Linked DNA regions of Homo sapiens: all the other regions are linked to region 1. Evidence: fine-mapped expression QTL. A gene starts in region 1. Each other region holds a variant in brackets. All regions are shown on one strand. Distances are between the middles of the regions.

Evidence for each region. PIP is the estimated chance that this variant, and not a neighbour inherited with it, causes the effect.
Region 2: its variant is fine-mapped to the expression of PNPLA1 in stomach (GTEx, PIP 0.99).
Region 3: its variant is fine-mapped to the expression of PNPLA1 in whole blood (INTERVAL, PIP above 0.99). The same link has a PIP of 0.9 or more in sun-exposed skin and unexposed skin.
Region 4: its variant is fine-mapped to the expression of PNPLA1 in whole blood (TOPMed, PIP above 0.99).

The regions. Positions count from the first base shown.
Region 1 is chr6:36,267,205-36,272,464 of GRCh38, forward strand. PNPLA1 (patatin like domain 1, omega-hydroxyceramide transacylase) reads left to right here and starts at 2,856. Exons shown (of 9, transcript NM_001374623.1): 1 at 2,856-3,460. The coding sequence starts at 3,256. RefSeq lists an enhancer at 964-1,550.
Region 2 is chr6:36,237,699-36,242,958 of GRCh38, forward strand. It overlaps LOC105375036 (a long non-coding RNA gene), which reads right to left. Exons shown (of 5, transcript XR_007059564.1): 5 at 4,254-4,373. Among named protein-coding and RNA genes, the nearest start is that of PNPLA1, 30 kb to the right of the region's middle. RefSeq lists a silencer at 2,134-2,428. The variant A/G (reference allele first, on the strand shown) is at 2,123.
Region 3 is chr6:36,303,674-36,308,673 of GRCh38, forward strand. PNPLA1 (patatin like domain 1, omega-hydroxyceramide transacylase) reads left to right here. Exons shown (of 9, transcript NM_001374623.1): 7 at 2,619-2,703; 8 at 3,914-4,039. Among named protein-coding and RNA genes, the nearest start is that of BNIP5, 31 kb to the right of the region's middle. The variant T/A (reference allele first, on the strand shown) is at 2,698.
Region 4 is chr6:36,290,491-36,295,490 of GRCh38, forward strand. PNPLA1 (patatin like domain 1, omega-hydroxyceramide transacylase) reads left to right here. Exons shown (of 9, transcript NM_001374623.1): 2 at 830-1,062; 3 at 2,571-2,636; 4 at 3,700-3,909; 5 at 4,874-4,934. Among named protein-coding and RNA genes, the nearest start is that of PNPLA1, 23 kb to the left of the region's middle. The variant A/G (reference allele first, on the strand shown) is at 2,741.

The DNA of each region.
Region 1 (5,260 bases):
TCTTCCTCGATGTCATTCGCTTGAAGTTCTTAGGGCGTGAGTAGAGGGTCAGGAACCAGGGCGAATGAAAGGAACCTTCTCAAGAGTTTAGCACCCAGCAGAGGACAGGCTGAGGCCTGCTGCTCACCAGCCCTTGTCAGCTGTGGAGACCAGTCTGCCAGGCTCAGCCTTTGGGGTCCAGGTTAGCAGCTCCTCCACGGCCTTGCTGGGTATAGTCACGGATTTCTGGCTGGCGTGTTTGCATGGAGGAGGCTGTGCGTCATTGCTGTCTCCACGTCCACAGGGAACAGAAACATATGTGCATTCGTGGAAGTCAGCCGGGTCCAAGCAGGTGGGGACAACGGGGGCCATGTCAGGATGCACTGTCTCTGAAGGGGTGGTGGGTCCCCAGCCCCCCAGGTGCCTGAAGCCCATGTACAGCAGGTGGCCTTGCTTTCTATTTCACTGGGATGACCCGGAAAAAGAAACTTATCCATAGCTGTCCTCCCCTCAACATGACCCCACACCCTCCTCCGCCTGCTTACCCTTCTCTGCTGCCTCAGTGGCAGGGATCTCTGTCCTTGGTTCTGGTGCCATCCCTGCCCCCCCCATGGATAGTGCCCATGTCTTGCTGTCATCTCAGATGCATCTTAAAGTAAAATCATCCTCCACCCAGCTTCCCCAGGTCTGTTCCAGTTTCCCCAACTCTGCAGGAGGCAGCCCCACTCCTCCCTACCCCCAGGCTAAAAGTGAGGCCTCAGCCTTGACTCACCCTGCCCATCCAACCAGTCCCTGGCCCTGAGAGTCTTCTGCAGCAATAACTTCATTAACTTGTCTTCCTGCAGCTGCCACCCTGGCCTGGCCACCATCATCCTAGGAGAATGGGCCACCATCCTCCTTCCTCATTCTCCAGCCCCAGTCTCATCTTCCTTCCAAGGCTCTGCATCTTGAGACCTCTCCAAGCTCCTCCTCATGTCGCATGTGGATCAAGCCTTCCCCTTTGGACCCTGCCTTTCTATTCCACCTTATCTCTGGGGTCTATCTGTTCCAGAAGCCTTGACTCTTACTACCCTCTGATAACCACAGACGTGCCGTGTGCCAGGCGTCCTACAGCCATTACCTTTAGCCTTTACAGCTACTGTGCAGCATAGGAATGACAGTATTGTCCCTTTCACAGATGAGGAAAACTGAGGCCCAGAGAGATCATGCACAGGTCACACTGCCTGTAAATAGCAGAGTTGGGATCCAATGTCATGACTCAGAAGGGTTCTCATCCAAAGCCCTTCATCCTGTGAAACAGGTCCCATTACACCCCTTCCCTTCTCTGCAAGGGGCTCTTGCTGCTCCTCGACCAGTGCCTGCCTGCTCCTCCCAGCTGCCTCCAGTCCCGCAGCCCACACCTCCGCCGCACAGCTCCTCAGATGTTCCAGCCCACACTGCTCAGCCCCGCCTCCTAACTTTTCTGGCAGGAATCTCAGCCCTGCACAGTTTAGTACTTAATTATAGATTGCCTTGTACAGTTTTCTGCTTATTTCACATTTGCCTGTCTTGTTCCCAAGAAGCCTGCAAATATCTGATTTGGGGATGGAGCTTCTGTGTGCTCCTGTCCCCCAGGGCCCCGACACAGCACAGGGCTTGGCACACAAGCCCTCAGTGGAGCTGACCTCACCTCCCAGGAAGGGGGCAGGGTCTCTGCTGTCCAAAAGCTGACTGGACTCCACCCTGACACACCCGCCCCCACCCCAGCAGTATGCCTCAGATATCTGCACACACATGCACACATGCATACACACGCATGTACGCACACACACTTTATCTAATCTAAAGCTCTCTTTTCAACCTGAGGCAATGATATGCCTGGAATTACCTACCCAAGACAGAAAACTCCCTCCTAACTGAAGCCTGGCCTTGCCCTCACTGTGGAATTCCCATGCAGATAAGTGAGTCCACCAGAATGGTGCAAGCTCCCCAGAAGCGGGGAAGCCACTGATGTCACATCCTGGATTGGCACTTGGTGGAGGCCTTGGTGTCTTGATTCTGATTCTGGTCCTGTTGCTGTGTGGTCTTTGAGGGGAGCGGGAGACGCCATCTTGCCTTCTTTGTTATATCTCCATGAGGGGACATTTTGTGGGTGTGAGAACCACTCCTCCCCATCAGGACCACATGATACAGCCCCTCAGGGGGCAGAACCGCAGCCCCTGGAGCTAACCCTGGTCCTCTCACACCACCTCCCTTACCAAAACGTCTCTCTGCCCTGACCCCGACGTCCCCACAGGTGACCTCCCCAGCTGCTCCTCCTTGGGGTTAAACATTGCTATCTCAAACTTCTCATTTCTGAGCGGGAAGAAGAACACGCAACACGAAGCCTCACACACTTAGAATGATCTAGATTTCAGGTTGATTTCTTCCTGCACACTTAGAAGATAGCATGAGGGCTTGGGGCTTGTCGAGAGGGCACTGACCAAGGTCACAGGGTCAGTGAAGGGCCCAGGAGAAGAAACAGAGAGAGGTGCAGAGGCGGTGGTGGGTGGGGCCGCCAAAGTCACACTTCTCTTAAAATTTTACCCAGGGCCAATGCTAACATGTAAATAAACAAGTGAATAAACAAAGGGGTGTTTATGTAAGAAAAACAAATAAAAATGCTTGTGTAACACATCACACATACCACATAGCCTGAAGGAGCCCAGGAGGGGCATCTCTTTTGGGGGACCCGTCCAAAAGAGATGGGGTAGGCACCGTCCTCCTGGAGGGAGGCGGGCTTGGAAGCCCTTCACGGCCGCAGCAGCATGTTGGGGAGGGAGGTGTACACCGATAACCATCACGGAGGTTTTGCAACTGAATGTTGCAGCTGAGGGCTGGGCAGAGCCCGCCTCCTTGGGCATGGCCCTGTGCTGGGGAGCAGTGAATGCGCCCTGGTATACCATGGATGGGCAGAGGGCTGAGGATCCCGTGCCCGAGATGAATCTAGCCAAGAAATGAAGCCAGTGGGGGGCTCACAGGACCAAGACCCTGCTCACACACCGGGGGAGCCTTCTGCATCTCATTCTGGGGCCCCTTTCCAACCTTTGGAGTTGCCTCCTGGCGGAGCTTAACAGGCTGAGGCAGCTTCCTGAGCAGCCTGTGGTTGCTCCAGCCGGGTAGAGACAGCCACATTCCAAGCTCCGGGGTGGCAGGGAAGCTGGGTAGGGAGTTCCTACAGGGAGCGGCAGCCCAGGCTCGGGCAGGCAAGTGCTGAAGGGTGGCTCCGCCTTCCGCAGAAAGTCAGAGGCCGAGGAGATGGAAGAACAGGTGTTCAAGGGGGACCCGGACACCCCTCACTCCATCTCCTTCTCGGGCAGTGGATTCCTCTCCTTCTACCAGGCGGGGGCTGTGGACGCCCTGCGGGACCTGGCCCCCCGGATGCTGGAAACAGCCCACCGCTTTGCGGGGACATCGGCAGGTGCTGTGATCGCCGCCCTGGCCATCTGCGGGATTGAAATGGGTGAGGCCTGTGTTCTGGGTCCCCTGGGAAGTCTCTTGGGGGATTCCACAGAGACAGAAGGAGCGTGAGGGAGGCTGGGGATGCTTTGGGGGACAAAGCCAGGCCTGGGTGGCAGGAAGGGAAGGGAAGAGCTGGTTGGAGTAGGATAGCGGCAGCTGTGACGTTTGAAGGTTGGGGTCTGCCAGGCCCCAGACTCTAACATGCAGGGTGAGCCTGGACCCCTGTCCCTCTCCCTCAGTGCCCTTACCTGTGAGATGCTCTGTCTCCCAGTGCCTGGGAGAGTAAAGGACAGTATCTCCCTCGAACATCGAACATGGTGCTGTCAGAAGCTACACCACGGCACAGTCATACATTGGGGTTCAGTGTTGCTCCTGCCTGGCCTCTTTCAAAATGCAAATACCCTTGGGAGAGGCAACTCTTCAAATCTCTATCACCCTGATGGGGACGTATTGTCCACCATTTCCAGGTGGCTGGAAAGATGAACGCCCTGAGGCTGGAGGGGTAGACAGGAGGGAGCCCAGAGTGGGAGAAGAATAGGAAGGGGTGGGGAGAGAATACAGAAGCTCTCACTTCACCTTCTGTCCTGCTGGTCCAGGAGCCTCAGCGAGAAGAACTGCTACACTGCTAACCCAGAGAGAGAAACACTGTCCCGGACAGCAGATGCATCTAGCAGCCCCAAGGAACAAGCCCAACAGCCTAGTGAGCTACCTTGGAGGGGCATTTATTCATTTACAGAGCTCCTATTCTAGACAGAGCTCTGTTCCAGGCACTGAGGACAAGGTCCCCGCCCTTGTGGAGCAGAAATTCTAGAGAAAAGAAACAGATAATAAACATTCAAACAAGGCACCTTCTAGTGTGAGGTCGGGAAGTGATATGATCTATGAATAAAATTAAAGCAGGAAAGGGACTGAGAATGAAATGGAGACTATTTCAGGAAGGTGGTCAGGGAAGCCTTTCTGAGGAGGTGACATTCAAGCCTAGAGCTGGGTATAGTGATAGAACAAGCTACTGGGAGCTCCTGAAAAGGAGAATTCCTGGTGGAGGAGCAGCCACGAAGCCTGCGGTGTGGAAAAGGTGGTGGGAGGTCAACAGGGGCCAGGTCATGTGGCCTTAGCCACAAGCTCTCATCTCACCTAAGGGAGGGGGAGCACAGACGGCTGTGACAGCAAGTGGGGAGGGGGCAGAGGGCGTGAGCTCCTCAGGTGGGATCCCAGCTCTGCCATTTCATGATGCATGCCTGAAGTAAGTTATTGAACGTTCTGCGCCTCTGTTTCTCCGTCCACAAATGGGAGCTCCTAATAGCGCCTAGTTCCCGGCATTGTTACAGCAGCGGTCTCCAGTTGACACCAGCGACTGGTTTTGTGGAAGACAATTTTTCCACACACCAGGGTTGGTGGGGGATGGTTTCAGAATGATTCAAGCGCATTACATTTGTTGTGCACTTTACTTCTATTATCATTATGTTTTAATATATAATGAAATAATTATACAACTCACCATAAGGTAGAATCAGAGCCCTGAGCTTGTTTTCCTGCAAGTAGGCAGTCCCATCTGAGGGTGATGGGAGACAGTGACAGATCATTAGGCATTAGATTCTCATAAGGAGTGCACAACCTAGATCCCTCCCATGCACAGTTCACAATAAGGTTCACGCTCCTATAAGAATCTAGTGCTGCCACTGATCTGACAGGACGCGGAGCTCAGGCGGTAATGTGAGTGATGGGGAGCCGCTGTAAATACAGAAGAAGCTTCACCTGCTGCTTACCTCCTGCTGTGCGGCCTGGTTCCTAACAGGCCACA
Region 2 (5,260 bases), 30 kb before region 1:
CTTCCGAGGTCAGGACCAGTTAGTGGAGTAGTCAGGTCAGGAGCAGGAGGAACAGACCCCGAAGTTTGAGTATTTTCATATTTTAGATATAGTTTTACATACAGTAACTCTGGGACACAAATCTTAAGATTAATCTCTATGAGTGTTTATATGTGTACCCACCCATGAAATTGTGATCCAAATCAAAATACAGAATGTTTCCAGTGCCCTAGAAGGTTCCTCATGACCCTGTCCAGTCAGGACCCCTGCTGCAAGTGTAACTACCATCCAGACTTCCATTGCTGTGGGTTAGTGTTGCTTGTTCTTGGACTTCACATAAATGGAATGACACAGCTTGCGCTCTTTTGTGTCTGGCTTCTTTCATTTAACATTGTGGCTCTGAGCTCCACCCTGTTTTGCATGTAGCTATAGTTTGCTTTTTGTTGTTGCTGAGTAATATTCCATCATCCAAACACACCACAGTTTGGGTATCCATTCTCCTGCTGATGGGCACTGGGTTATTTCTAGTTTAGGGCTGTTATAAATAACACTGCTGTGAACATTCTTGTACATGTCATTTGATGGACATAAGTGCTTGTATGTCCCAGGAGTGGAATTGCTAGGTCACGGGGCAGATATATGTTTAGCTTTAGTGGATTCTGCCAGTTTCCCATTTGGTGTTCAATTTATATCCCCTCCTGTATGAGTCTGATCTTGCACAGCTCCCCACCTGTATTAGTCTGATCTCGCACAGCTATAAAGAAATACCTGAGACTTGGTAATTTATAAAGAAAAGAGGTTTAATTGGCTCACGGTTCTGCAGACTGTATAGGAAGCATGGCTGGGGAGGCCTCAGGAAACATAGAATCATGGCGGAAGGGGAAGGCGAAGCAGGCACATCTTACATGGCCAAAGCAGGAGGAAGGGAGCAAAGTGGGAGGTGCTACACACTTTAAAATAACCAGATCTGAGAACTCACTATCGTGAGAACAGTAAGGGGGAAATCTGCCCCCATGATCCAGTCACCTCCCACCCGGCCCCTCCTCTAACACTGGGAATTAAAATTCAATATGAGATTTGGGTGGGGACACATATCCAAGCCGTATCAGAGTATAGTTGCTTCACATCTGTGCCAACACACAGTACTGCTGGTCCATGATGTTTGCTCCAGACCTGCTTGTTGAATGACTTCCATTAAGCTCCACTGTGCAGCCAGGCTTCTGTTATCCTTTACAGCACTTTCTGGCTTTAGAGGGAGAATTATGAACTGCCAAGGTGCTTTTCAACTGGGGAACCCTGATTGAGAGGATGGTGAGGGGGGAGAGCTCCCTGGAGTGGATTTGCTGCTGATCCTGTCCTGGACTCCAGGGCATGTATGCACCTGGCTGTGCAGCCCAGGCCTCTCTTGGCACCCACTTCTGTACTATGGTGCCACCCAGATCCCTGCATGGGCTGTTTGGGAGATAGGGTCACACTGGGCAGTCCTTTTTAGTTCAGAGTAACACTACCTTTCCCACCTCATCCTCCTCATCACTGTCATTGGGCTCTGAGGGACCCACTTTTGCTCGAGGATTGCTTTTTTACTTTCTGTTTTTGTTTTCTTGAGATAGGGTCTCACTCTGTTGCCCAGGCTGGAGTGCAGTGGCTCGATCACAGCTCACTGCAATCTCTGCCTCCTGGGGCTCAAGCGATTCTCCCCCCTCAGCCTCCCAAATAGCTGGGACCATAGGTGTGTGCACCACCATGCCCGACTAGACTAATTTTGGTATTTTTTGTAGAGATGGGGTTTCGCCATGTTGCTCAGGCTGGTCACAAACTCCTGGGCTCAAGGGATCCGCTGGCCTTGGCTTCCCAAAGTGCTGGGATTATAGGCGTGAGCCACTGTGCCCGGTCTGAGGGACCCACTTTTGAATACAGACCCCAGCCTGTGTCCTGAGGTGTTATGGTTACCGGTGGGGCAGAAGGGACCCCTGCATATTGCACCCATTTTGTCCTTGTCCACTGGCTGTTGCCCAAAATTCTACCCTTAGTGCTTTATGCTTTTACCTCTCAAGGGCATGATACTTAGGGACTTGGCAGTGACCCTGGTTAGAGTGGGCCTGTTTTCCTTTAAATGACCGGTATCCCAGTGTGAACAAAGGAT[A/G]TGTGAGCAGGTTTTGATAAGGCAATACAGCAAGGACACTGAGTCCTTGAGGGGAAGGTTTAAAAGGAGATGAAAAGGGCCTACTTGCTGTTGGCTGACCTTGGTGCCACAGACGCACATTTCAGAGTCATCAAGGATGAAGGCTCAGAAGACTCTGAAGCAACTTCAAAGGAATCGCTTGGATCACAGGTGGGGTGAAGGTTGGAGATAAGAAGGCAGGGCCAGGGAAAGAGACCCAAGGGAGCCTCGTTTGGAAGCAAAGCTCTGGAAACAAAAGACTGCAGAGCCAGGGTCAACCTGGGCAACTGTTTGAAGCCAGCCCCGTCCTCAGGTGCAAGAAAGAGCATTCTCTGGGTCTAAGCCTGAGTTGTGCGCGGAGGACACAGGCTTTCCTGGGCAGGACTGCAGGCTTCTGGCTCCACTCGTGCCTGTGGCACACACAGGTTTTGATAGCCAGAGCCTGGCCAGTCCTCCTCTTTCTGCTCCCTGTCCCTCCTGGGACCAGGACTTGGCCTCTCCCCTCCACCCTCCCTTCTCTTCCTCCTTCCCTTCTTTGTCTCCTTCTCCTTAAATTTTGTGATTTTTAATTTCAATTGATTTATTGCCCCTCCTTGTCCCCAGCCTCCCAGTTCTCCTCCCCAGAGGAAACCAGTTTCACCAGTTGCATGTGTAAGTTTCCAGAGACACTTTAATCTATGCACATGAGTGATGTGTGTGTCCACTTTTTCTATACAAATGGTAGCATACTTTTTATAGTGTTCTAGGCCTCATTTAAAATTTTAAAATTAAATATTGAGTAGATACAAAAATAGTAGTTATAGAATATATATACATTTTAAAGACACCCACAATACAATAGACCAGTATGGGTACCCACGCCCTGTTTTAGACAAAGAAGCTGGGCTTTTGAAACCATGTGCCTCTCTCCAGCCCCACCCTCCTCTTCCCCTAAATACTATCATGAATTTTACGCTTATCCTGCCCTTTTTGTCTTTTTATAATCCTACTACTTGTTTATAATAGATTATGATAAATATACTATATTTTTATACTAAGATAAATGTAATAAACATTATATATAACAAGACATAAATATATATAATAATTGAATATGGTATACTACCTTTTTGGGATTATGAATAGAATAGTTTTCTATGGCTGGCTTTTGTCCCACCCATAATTATAGTTCTGAAGTTCAGTGTACTGATACGCATGTCCGGAGTTAGTTCATTTTCACTCTTGTATAGAATTCCATTGCATGGAGATAGTATGATTATTTTCATTGGACTATTTTATTTATTAATAATAATTATTATTGTTTTCTAATTTAATTTTATTTTTTGAGACAGGGTCTCATTCTGTTGCCCAGGCTGGAGTGCAGTGGTGCAATCATGGCTCACTGCAGCCTCAACCTCCAGGGCTCAAGAAACGATCCTCCTACCTCAGCCTCCCAATTAGCTGGGACTACAAGCATGAGCCATCACACCTGGCTAATTTTTAAAACTTCTTTTATAGAGACAAGGTCTCACTATGTTGCCCAGGCTGGTCTTGAACTCTCAACCTCAATAATCCTCCGGCCTCAGGCTCCCAAAGGGTGGCTCATGCCTGCTGGGATTACAGGCATGAGCCACTGTGCTTGGCCTCAGTGCTGGCCTCAGTTTTGGGGTTCTAGGAACAGAGCTGGTGCAAATGTTCTTAATTGTTTCTTTTGGTGTGTGTTGGGGGGAATGGCGGGGGTTGGGTAAGAACTTCTCCAGGGCATTTGCAAGGCCATTGGGAAAGTACATTGTCAACTTCAGTAGATAATGCCAAAATTTTAAAAAGTGGTTATAACCATTCGCACACCCACTAGTAGTTTGAGCATTCCCCTCACTCCACTTCTTCACCAACACCTGCAATTATCAGCTTTTTTTTTTTTGTAGATGGATCTGTGTGAAATTGTAACTCACTGTGGTTTTAGTTTTCATTTCCCTGGTTATGCATGCTGCCTTTTTTTTACTTAAAATATGTCTTGGTGACTGTTCCGTATCAGAGCAGTGAGGACTTCCTCCTCCTTTCTTGGCTGGAAAGTGTTCCATCGTCATATGGAAATCTTGTGGTCGATTTAACCCGTTCCCTATTGATAGACGCTGTGTGGGCTCCAGCCTTTTGCAGTCGACTCTGCGATGCATAACTTCGTGTATAGATAGCAGTCTGCAGCTGCACGTGGGGGTGTGTGCATGTAGGTTTTTCACAGGAACCTCCTGAAATGCTTAGAAGAAAAGGAAAGATAGTGTTTGCTCCCCCGGCCCTGTGCCTCCCTATTTTCAACAAATTCCCTTAATTCCATGAGTGCCCCAGGGTCAGAATGGTATCCACCCTGTCCTGTTTGCACCGTACCATCTCTTCTCTCAGATGATGATGTTCATCTCCCACCCGCTTCCCTTCGAGCCACCCCCACCTCATAGACTCCTCAGGAATTGTCTCTACCCGGCATCTCTCACTTTTTCTTTCTTTTTTCTTCCTTTCTCTCTTTCTCTTTCTTCCTTCCTTCCTTTCCTTCCTTCCTTCATTTCCTTCCCTTCCTTCCTTCCCTTTCTTTCTGTTTCTCTCTCTCTCTCCCCCTCCCTTCCTCCCTTCCTTTTCTTTCCTTCTTTCTTTCTTTCCTTTTTTTTTTTTTTTTTTGATCAGGGTTCTTGCTCTGTCACCCAGGCTGGAGGGCAGTGGTGCGATCATGGCTCACTGTAGCCTCAAACTCCTGGACTCAAGCGATCCTCTTGCCTCAGCCTGCCAAATAGCTAGGACTGCAGCTGCTCGCCGCCATACCCAGCTATATTTTTTGTAGAGACAGGGTCTCGCTATGTTGCCTTGGCTGGTCTCAAACTCCTAGGCTCAAGAAATCCTCCCCCCTCAGCTTCCCAAGTCACTGCCAGACATCTTTCTTATTGACATCCCCATCTCGAGAATCCAAGTTAGTATTAACTGAGGGATTAGACTTTGCCTTGCCCTGAAAGAGAGAAAAACAAACTGACCACCACTCTAGAGACTGTTTAGTCTCAAAAGTCGGCGCAGTAACACACACACACACACACACACACACACACAACCAACCAACCAAAAAAAAAACAGGTAAAGGCAGACAAATTCCAACCCATCCCC
Region 3 (5,000 bases), 36 kb after region 1:
ACAAAAAAATCAGCCAAACTTGGTGGTGCATGCCTGTAATCCCAGCTACTTGGGAGGCTGAGGCAGGATAATCGCTTGAACCCAGGAGGTGGAGGTTGCAGGGAGCCAAGATTGTGCCATTGCACTCCAGCCTGGGCAACAAGAGTGAAACTCCATTTAAAAAATATATATATATCAGAAGTATTAAGTACTATATAACTAATAAAAACACAGTGTTGGAGGGTATTCGTAGAGAATAAGACCACTTATCTCTGGGGCAGTATGAAAAGCTTCTTGGAGGTGACAGGTGAGCTTAAATGGGCAGGATTTTGAACATCGTGGTTTGTGGGATTGGATGGGTTGGAGTAGAAAGAGCATTTCCGATTTTGTTTATTTAAAATGCTCAGGTGCAGTGCAGGAATGTGCAGGGTACTTTCAAGGTACTTTAGGAAGGAGAGGACTTGTGTGTGGCCACCATGGATGGTCTGGGTGGAGACAGAGGGACAGAGACCCAAATGAAGGACTGAAGCCAGATTGTAGGGTGCTCATGGTCCTCAGCCAAACTTCCAGAGCTATTATGGTAAACGTCACAGATCGGCAATGTCTCCTCATCTGGGAATTAGCCCCAACTTGGTAGAGATGCCCTTTCTTTGGAACAGGTTTACTTTGACTCTTTTAATGAGACAAAAACAAAACACCATTAAGAAAATTAGGCTGTGACTCATGCCTTTGAGAGGCAGAGGCAGGCAAGTCACTTTCAGTCAGGAGTTCGAGACCAGCCTAGCCAACGTGGTGAAACCCCATCTCTACTAAAAATACAAAAAATTAGCCGGGCATGGTGGCAAGTACCTGCAGTCCCAGCTACTCAAGAGGCTGAGGCAGGAGGATCACTTGAACCTGGGAGGCGGAGGTTGCAGTGAGTAGAGATCGTGCCACTGCACTCCAGCCTGGGCGACAGAGTGAGACTCCGTCTCAGGAAAAAAAAAAAAAAAAAAAAAAGTCAGAAAATTGGGCGCAGTGTTTTACCTGCTCTCTTATTTCCTGTTAAATACAAAACACTTGTTTTACATTAACCACACCTGTGCATGAAGGCGGCCATCTTCAGGTACCTGAGCAATCCTGCACCCCAAGTCGGCATTCCTCACTCATATCGGGGGTGGATAGAGGGCATATATAGTCTAGTGATTCTCTACTGGGAGTGATTTTGTCTCCAGGAGACATTTAGCAATGTCTGCAGACATTTTGGTTGTCACCTAGTGGTTACAGGCTGGGGACACTGAAAAATATCCTGTAGTGCACAGAAGTCTCTGCACAAAGTGCTTTCTGACCGTTAGTGTCAATAGCATGTACTGAGATTGAGAAGCCATGTTATAGCTTACAGCTGAGCCTCAATGGTGACATCCTAGGCCATCTATGTGAGTTAGGCAGAGCTGAGACCCCCTAGAGCAAGTTTATCCAACCCGCGGCCCAGATGGTTCTGAATGCACCAGTCTATAAAAAATTCATTAACTTTCTTAAAACATTGTGAGATTTTTTTTGGATTTTTTTTCAGCTCATCAGCTATCATTACTGTTAGTGTATTTTATGTGTGGCCCAAGACAATTCTTCTTCCAGTGTGGCCCAAGGAAGCCAAAAGATTGGACACCCCTGCCCTAGAGTTTAGTGGTATCAGTCATTTAATGATGGCCATTGGTGGCATTGGGGAACAGGAAAATTGTTAAAAGCCCTAGGAATATCCAAAAACAAAAGGACAAGCCTCATTGTGAATAGATTTGGGAGAGTTAGGGACATACAACAAGTCTCTAACAAAATAACTTCAGAAGAACCCACATATACTTTATATTACCTTTATTTATATATAATACATAATTACATATTAACCTTCATGTATTATGTATCCCCATACTCATTAAAAACATGTAAAGAGCTTACTTAAGAGTAATGGCCATGAAACTATTAATACTCTGTTCTAAGAAACAAACAAAAAGCATTACATGAAGCATGTGATGGAAAGTCCAGGCCCCTTCAGGGGATTTTCCTGAAAACCTTCCCTAACATGCTGCTTTCTGCGAGGGAGCTATTTCTTTTCTTTTCCTTATTTTTCTTTACTTTTCTCTTTTTTTTTTTTTTTTTTTTTTGGTGGTGGAGGAGGAGACAGTATCTCACTCCCGGCTCACTGCACTCTCAACTTTTGAGGCTCAGGTGATTCTCTTACCTCAGCCTCCCGAGTAGCTGAGATCACAGGCATGCACTACAACACCCAGCTAAATTTTTGTATTTTTAGTAGAGACAGGGTTTCACCATGTTGGCCAGACTGGTCTCAAATTCCTGGCCTCAAGTGATCTGCCCGCCTTGGCCTCCCAAAGCGCCGGGATTACAGGCATGAGCCACCGGGCCTGCCCCTGGGAGTTGTTTCTAATGTTCCACCAAGGGTCCGAGTCAGCCGCTCCACAGATGCCGCGGGCCTGCGTCTCAGTCAAGTCCCACGACATGACTCTGGTTGTAAAGATGAGAATTTGAGGACAAGAGAGTTCTTTGCTGTTTTTAAACATTCTCATTTACTGACTATTGCTATTTCAAAAATGACTCCATATCCCCCCTCCCCATCTCACTCCCGTTTCCTATATCTTTACTTTTAGCTGTAGCTCTTCTTGTCTCTTCAAAACCAAAAAGCGCCGTGCCTCTGGTTCATGTGAAGGAAACCGTCAGCAAGCCTTA[T/A]GTAACGTAAGTTTCCCCTTCGTGGAGCACGCTCTTTCCTTTGGACGGAAGAAGCAAGCCCGGCTAAGCGATATCTTCCACCACCTTAGCTGCCCCAGGAACTCTGGGATCCTTTTCTGGTGTGTGTGATTGTGTGATTCCAGGTCCACCCCTTTACATCTCACAAAGCTGCCTTCTCTTGTTCAGTTAGGGCAGTGTGTGGGGAAGGAGCCTGTCCGTGGTGATGATGTCATTCTCTTCTCCTGCACACTGGGGATGCTCCTTCTCTGAGTGCAGTGCAAGAATGTGCATCCCCTGCCCTCATATTTTACTCTCTGGTGATGCCACAGTTCCAAGAGGGCCTGCAGGCATCCTACCTCCCAGCCTTAGGTAGCTCCTGCATGAAATGAATTAAGGGTCTCTATCAAAGGCCTTCCTTACTCCGAACTATTTTCTATTAGCATGATAATGACCTGATAGTACTAGACTGTAGACTGTCCCCAGAAAATCTTTTTTATTATGCACATCAAGTGTCTGGGTTGCATAACATACACTCCATTATATCTTTGCAATAACTATGAGAGGACCTGGGGATCTGCTTTTTTAAAAACTTCCCTGAGGACCACATTACCCAGGCTCCCTTGCTGGCTGAATGCCGTTTGTACTGGTGGTGGGGGAGGCACAGCAGGAGATCAGAAGTTGGGTCAAGGGTATTTCTCCCCACAACCCCAGCCCCCCTCTCATCCCTCCCTGCCTTGGGACCACTCTGGCAGTAGCTGGGTTTCTCCATGACCACAGCTGCAGGTATTGAGAGAGCAGGGCCTGAGGCATTCCTGCTTTTAATGTTTGCACTCTCTCTCACATCAAGCATATTAAAATTTACCTGCTTCCCACATTAAGTATAATTTTAACCATAAAACTTTTTGAAAGAGTTTGTATAAATTTAACAATTTTGAGCTTAGGCATAAGTTATGCATTTTGTTCACATAATTTAAACTTTTTTGCATTTACATATAACTCTATAAAAGTCGGAGTTTCATTTGACTCATGGGCATGATGTTACTTAGATAAATATTCATTGATTATATTTTAAAAAAAGTTTGCTGGGAAATCCAATCCTCAGCCAGGGTTGAGAACCACAGCGCGGGTGTGTCCACCTGCGGAGCTGAGCAGGCCACCATGTTGGAGGACCGAGGTCAGGCCCATAATGAACCATCTACTTAATCTCTTTGCCTAGGGAGAGCCCTGCTGAAGACTCAAACTGGGTGAATAAGGTCTTCAAGAAGAACAAGCAAAAGACAAGTGGCACCAGAAAAGGCTTCCCAAGACATTCGGGATCCAAAAAACCAAGCAGCAAAGTGCAGTGAGCATGTCTAATGTTCCTTAAATCCCACGGAGAGGAGCAGCTTTGGGAACTGTGTTCAGAGAGATTCCGAGGAATAGAGGAGAGTGTAAGGGAGTAGGGGGTGCAGTGGGAGATTGGGCTTTGGAACAGACACATCCGACATAAAATTCCTGCTCTGCCACAGCTCCACTCAGGGATCATGGTTGGGACACTTGCTCTCCCTGAGCCTCCATTTCCTGTAAAATGGGGATGATACCACTTCATAAAGTTGTGAGAGTTAAATGTGATCGATGATGTAAATTGCTTCATAGAATGCAGAATGTGTAATAGCTCACAATAAGTAGGTATTATGTTTACATATTATGTTTGTATTTATGCTACTTAAATACAAAACTGGACAGGCCAGGCATGGTGGCTCATGCCTGTAATCCCAGCACTTTGGGAGGCTGAGGTAGGTGGAAAACCTGAGGTCAGGAGTTCAAGAACAGCCTGACCAACATGGTGAAACTCCATCTCTACTAAAAATACAAAAATTAACCAGGCTTGATGGTGTGCACCTGTAATCTCAGCTACTCGGGAGGCTGAGGCAAGAGAATCGCTTGAACCCAGGAGGCAGAGGTTGCAGTGCACCAAGACTGCGCCATTGCACTCCAGCCCGGGCAACAAGAGCGAAACCCCATCTCGAAAAAAAACAAAACAAAACTAGACAAGTGAGTGCCTACGTGACACTCAAATGTTGCCAGCATACAGTTAAGGGCCCTAGTCAATGTAGGCCTGCTTCTTATAGCTTTTTGACTATATTATGCTGTCTTTGACTTAGTCAGTCAACACTTATTGAGCACCTACTAAGTGCCAAACACTCTCCTGGACTCTGGCAAAATAAAAAATGAATTAAAACTCTATCCCCAAGTTTCAACAGTTTACTCCTAGTCTAACTTTAGATCAAAGATAAGACTAAAACCTAAGAATCTGATGAACT
Region 4 (5,000 bases), 23 kb after region 1:
CTCAGTTTCCTGATCAGTAAAAGGAAGATAGAAATACCTACCTCCCAGTATTGTTGTGGGAATTAAGCAAGTTAGCACTTCTTATTAAGCTTACAACCCAGACTTCCCTGGTGGGGTTCTGGGGACTTGGGGTGGGGAAGATTACACCCTCCTCTGCCACCCCCGAATAGCGCATCTGCCCACTGAGCAAATGGCACAGGCGAGCCTTACATAGTCCATATCTCAGGGTCATCTCCCTCTCAGACCTGGACCAGGGCCATAAAGGAAAGATGATGCAATGGTTTCAAGACAAAGTTCACCTCCTCCTCATGATTCACCGGCCCAAGGCCAGCACCCCTTCCCTGCCCACAGACTCAGTGGGCACCAAGCAAGTATCCCAGGGCGTCACTTAGGAACAACTTCCAACTGCACCAGTGTTTTAATAGGAATCTCATACAGGACCCCAAAAATGTCATCTGGCAGTGGACTTCCAGGCAGAGTGACAAGAAGTTAGGGAAAGCTATTGGGGGTTGGGCTAAAGTGTTCCTTTAGCTGTTGATATGAAGGTGTCTGTCACGTAATGACTCCTGGACAAAGGTCAGGATGCCTGGGTCCAGCTCCATCATTGCCTAGCTCTGGGCTCTCCGGAGCCAGCGACTTCCTTCCTCAATATCTTGCTTCCGTCATGTGCAAGACAGCAGGCCGATTCCTGGGGTTTTCCCAGCTTCCGAATTCTAGGTTTCCCCATTTGTTGGATTCAGAGATGAGTTGGAGAAACCACCCTAGACCTCCCTTGGCCCCTGGCCACTGGGTGGCACCGACCACCCCCTCTTCTCTGCTTCCTTTGCAGATGAGTATCTCAGAGTCCTCAACGTGGGTGTGGCCGAGGTGAAGAAATCCTTCCTGGGGCCCTTGTCCCCGTCCTGTAAGATGGTGCAGATGATGAGGCAGTTTCTGTACCGGGTCCTGCCCGAGGACTCCTACAAGGTCACCACGGGGAAGCTCCATGTGAGCCTCACCCGCTTAACGGACGGGGAGAATGTGGTGGTTTCAGAGTTCACGTCCAAGGAGGAGCTCATTGAGGCAAGGGGGCTGGGCTGGGAGGGAGGGACACGGAGGGGGCGGGGGAGGGCGGCTCCTGCTCTTTCTCCACAGCTCAACCCGATGCCTTATCCACCTGCCTCACTTCCCTAGTCCTTCCCTTCCTTCATGCCCCCAGAGTCTCGCTGTGCAAGGTGCAGTGCTAGATGAGATGGACACAGAAGCCCAGGACGAACCAGGCTTGACCGCCACCCTCAATGCTTCGGCCTTCACATCCATCCTGCCCGGCCCCCTGCGCTAAGCCTGGAGCTTCCCAGAGGCCCAGGTGTGACTTGCAGAGGGCCTGGGTCTCCTTCAGGGCCTTCCAGGCTGGGCTGCCATGCATCCCCCCAGAATTACTCCCACTTTGTGGGAACGGTCAGGGGAGAGGGGCCCCCATGTCCCCTTTCTGCCCCCTCTCTTCCAGTGGCCCTTGATAAGGGATTGAATGGTTACCAAATCAGTTAACACTTAGAAAAGTGCACGCTAATCCTGAGTGCGCTGCCCTAAGCTCATTAATATTAATTTTAGTTATGAATAATGATTGCTGGAAAGGGCCGCAGGTAGGTCCCAGTGTCTTTCGGGACAAAGGGGTTAAGCTGTGTGGCCTCCTTCCCACATCTCCACTCTCCTTCCTTCCCCCACATACAGGGGCTTCGCCACTCCATCCTCATCCCATACTGGCCTGGCAGTAATCCTGGGGATGAGGGATGAATAGGCAGTGGGCACAGACACCACCTCCGTCCCTCAGGCCCCCTGGGTTTATCAGCAGCCAGCTCTTCCAGATCTGCCTCCTCACGCCCACCCCCGTTCTGACTTCACTGCCCACTGCTGCAGTTTTCTCTTCCCGGCCCTCTCCCCCACCTTCCACTCCTACCATGCCAACCCTAGCAAACCACACACAAGCCAGGCCTCTGGGTCTTTGCACCTGCCGCTCCCTCTGCCTGGGATCCCCTCCCTCCTTCCCACACTGCTTTGCCTGCTGCTGAAACCCAGTCCCTCCTGCCAGGGCACTTCCCTTCATCCCCTCCCACCCTGCCTGCACCCCTCTTGTGGAGCCACGGTGCCCATGCTCACCTCCACCATGCCCCTGTCACCCCACTGCACCGTCACCCACTTGCTCACTCCCTCTCATAGGGCACTCCCAAAGGTGGGCCTCTCAGCCTCCTTTGCTTCCAGGGCCTGGCCCAGGGCTGACACACATTAATGGTTGTTGAATCCCACTGGATTCATGAAAGTTCAGCATCAGAAGGAACCCCGAAGCTATGGAGGACCCCCTCCTGCTTTAAAGCTGGGACATCAGGGCCAGATGGACCAAGCAGGTTACCAAGGACCCAATTAGTGAAGGCCAGGCCAGGAACTGAACTCGGAGCTTTGCTTCCCAGTGTGGCACCTTCACCTAGAATTTAAGGAGGTCTGGGCTGGTGGTGGGTGGCCCAGGGGCTGACAGGTGAGCTGTCCCCACCCCACCCCCGGGCCTCCAGCATCTCAGCCCTGTTCTCTCCGCACAGGCCCTATACTGCAGCTGCTTCGTCCCGGTGTACTGTGGCCTCATCCCCCCGACTTACCGCGGTGTGGTGAGTGCTTCGGCATGGTGAGGGGTGAGATGGGATCCAAGGGACCTCGGGTCCCTGTGACTCACACCTGGGGGAGCAGGGGGGTGGTCTCAGAATGCAGCGGG[A/G]GGACCTAGAGTTGGAGAGTTTCTCATGTTGTTACTCAGAATTCCCAATGTAGGTGGCTTTCTGGGCCTTTAAGATGAACTTCTCCAGCTGGGGTGGGTTCCTCTCTGGACCCACCTACCCACTGCCAAGCCGGGCAAATCAAGGCTCCATAGGCTTGGCAGGTTTTCCCAGACTTGACAGAGCAGAGGAGATGAAGCACTGGGACCTGGAAACTCAAATGATGAGGATGTTTTCTGAGGCCTGTAGGCCAGGGCCTTACAGACTTTAATGTGCCCTTGAATCACTCGGGGTCTCGTAAAATTATGCAAGTTCTGATCCAGGCGGTCTGAGGCAGTGCCTGAGGGTCTGCGCCCCTAACCAGCCTCAGGTGCTGCCCGTGCTGCTGGTGGGTGGGCCACACTCTGAGTGGTGATGGTCTAGCTCATGCCCCCTCCTCATTTTATATGCAGAGAAAGTCAGGGCCAGAGACTAGGATTCAGGTAGTAGATGGAGCTTGTATTGCATGTCAGCCAGCCCTGAGAGTTAGAGCCTCAGTATTTGTTGTCCTTCGTTCATAGGTGAGAAAACAGAAGCCCCAGAAAGGAAGGGGCTTGTGGGTGAACAGGTGGTGGGGCTGTAGCAGAGGAGCACGTCTCCTGCTTTACCCAGAGTATGGGTCCCCTGCACACAGAGCCCTGGGAGCCCCAGTCTCAGCGCCACTAAGATAGTGGAGGGAGGATCAGTGCAGGACAGAGCACCGGGCTGGGAGTCCAGAGGCCAATGCAGACTCACTAAGTGACCAGGGGCACACCACGCACCCACCAGGACCTCCGTCTCCAGGCTTATCCTGAGGGGTCTTCTGGATCTTCCTTGATGGGCCCTTGAAGCTGGTGCCATATCCCATGGGCCATTTCGATGTACCCCGAGTGGGGCTGAGAACTCTGGCCCCAAGTGGGCATTTCTCACTCTGCCCCCACAGAGGTACATCGATGGGGGCTTCACGGGCATGCAGCCCTGTGCCTTCTGGACCGACGCCATCACCATCTCCACCTTCAGTGGGCAGCAGGACATCTGTCCCCGGGACTGCCCGGCCATCTTCCACGACTTCCGCATGTTCAACTGCTCCTTCCAGTTCTCCCTGGAGAACATCGCCAGGATGACCCACGCATTGTTCCCCCCGGACCTGGTGGTGAGAGGCAGGAGGGGTCTGGGGAGTAGCAGAAGGTACCAGGGACTAGGGGTGGGGTTAGAGAGCCACTGGGGCCCACTCAAGTTCCATCTGAGTCTCCTCCCCTCAAATGGTCCTTTAAACTTCCTCCTAGACCTGCATCCTGGCCTTGCTGCTAACTAGCTATGTGACCTTGAACAAGCGCCTCAAGCTCTCCCAGCTTCAACATTCTCCCCGGTAAAGCGAGATGATGCCAGAAGTGCTGATAGAAATATTAACTGAACCCATCCATTCAGACAGTTCATGTCCCAAATCAAAGGTCGGCAAGCTGCAGCCCACGGGCCAAATCTAGCCTATGGCTTGTTTTTGTACAGCCTGTGAGCTAAGAAAGGGTTTTCCATTTTTAGAGAGTTATGGGGGAAAGAAAAAAAGAAGAAAAAGAAAAAGAACATTAGGCAGAGACTGCATGTGGCCAGCAAAGCCCAAAATAAGTATTTACTATCTGGCCCTTTACAGAAAAGGCTTTGTGGGCAGTAGCTCATGTAATCCTCTAGCATCCTCTATGATCAATATTATAACTGTCCCCATTTTATAGATGAAGAAATTGAGGCTGTGAGAGGGGACAGCAACACAGCCAATAAGGGGCAGCCCAGAGACCTGAACTCAGGCTCCAAACTTTGCTCTTCATATGGCCCCAGTGCACCTGGTTCTGCCATGAGCACCCCACACTTTCCTCCCAGGGGAGGCCGAGGCTCCACCATGAATGGTGTAACTCATGAACGGAGCATCACTGGGGCGTGTGATCAGGAATTGCTCCTCGGTTCTTCTTAGCAGACAGTGAGGGATGGGACACTGGATGGGTACGTTTTGAAAAGCCCATCAAATAAAATTCAAGAGCAATGGGAGTAGCTGCCCTGGGTCGGGGGAACTGTGGCTCCCTTCCTCCCCGCAGCCTTGGTAATTCTCCTGGTGCCTCCGCCCACAGATCCTGCACGATTACTACTACCGAGGGTACGAGGATGCAGTTTTGTACTTGAGGCGGCTGAGTAAGTACCGGTGGGGCCCCAGGTAAGGGCAGTGTTGGAGGGTAGGGAAAGTTCAAACAGTAGAAG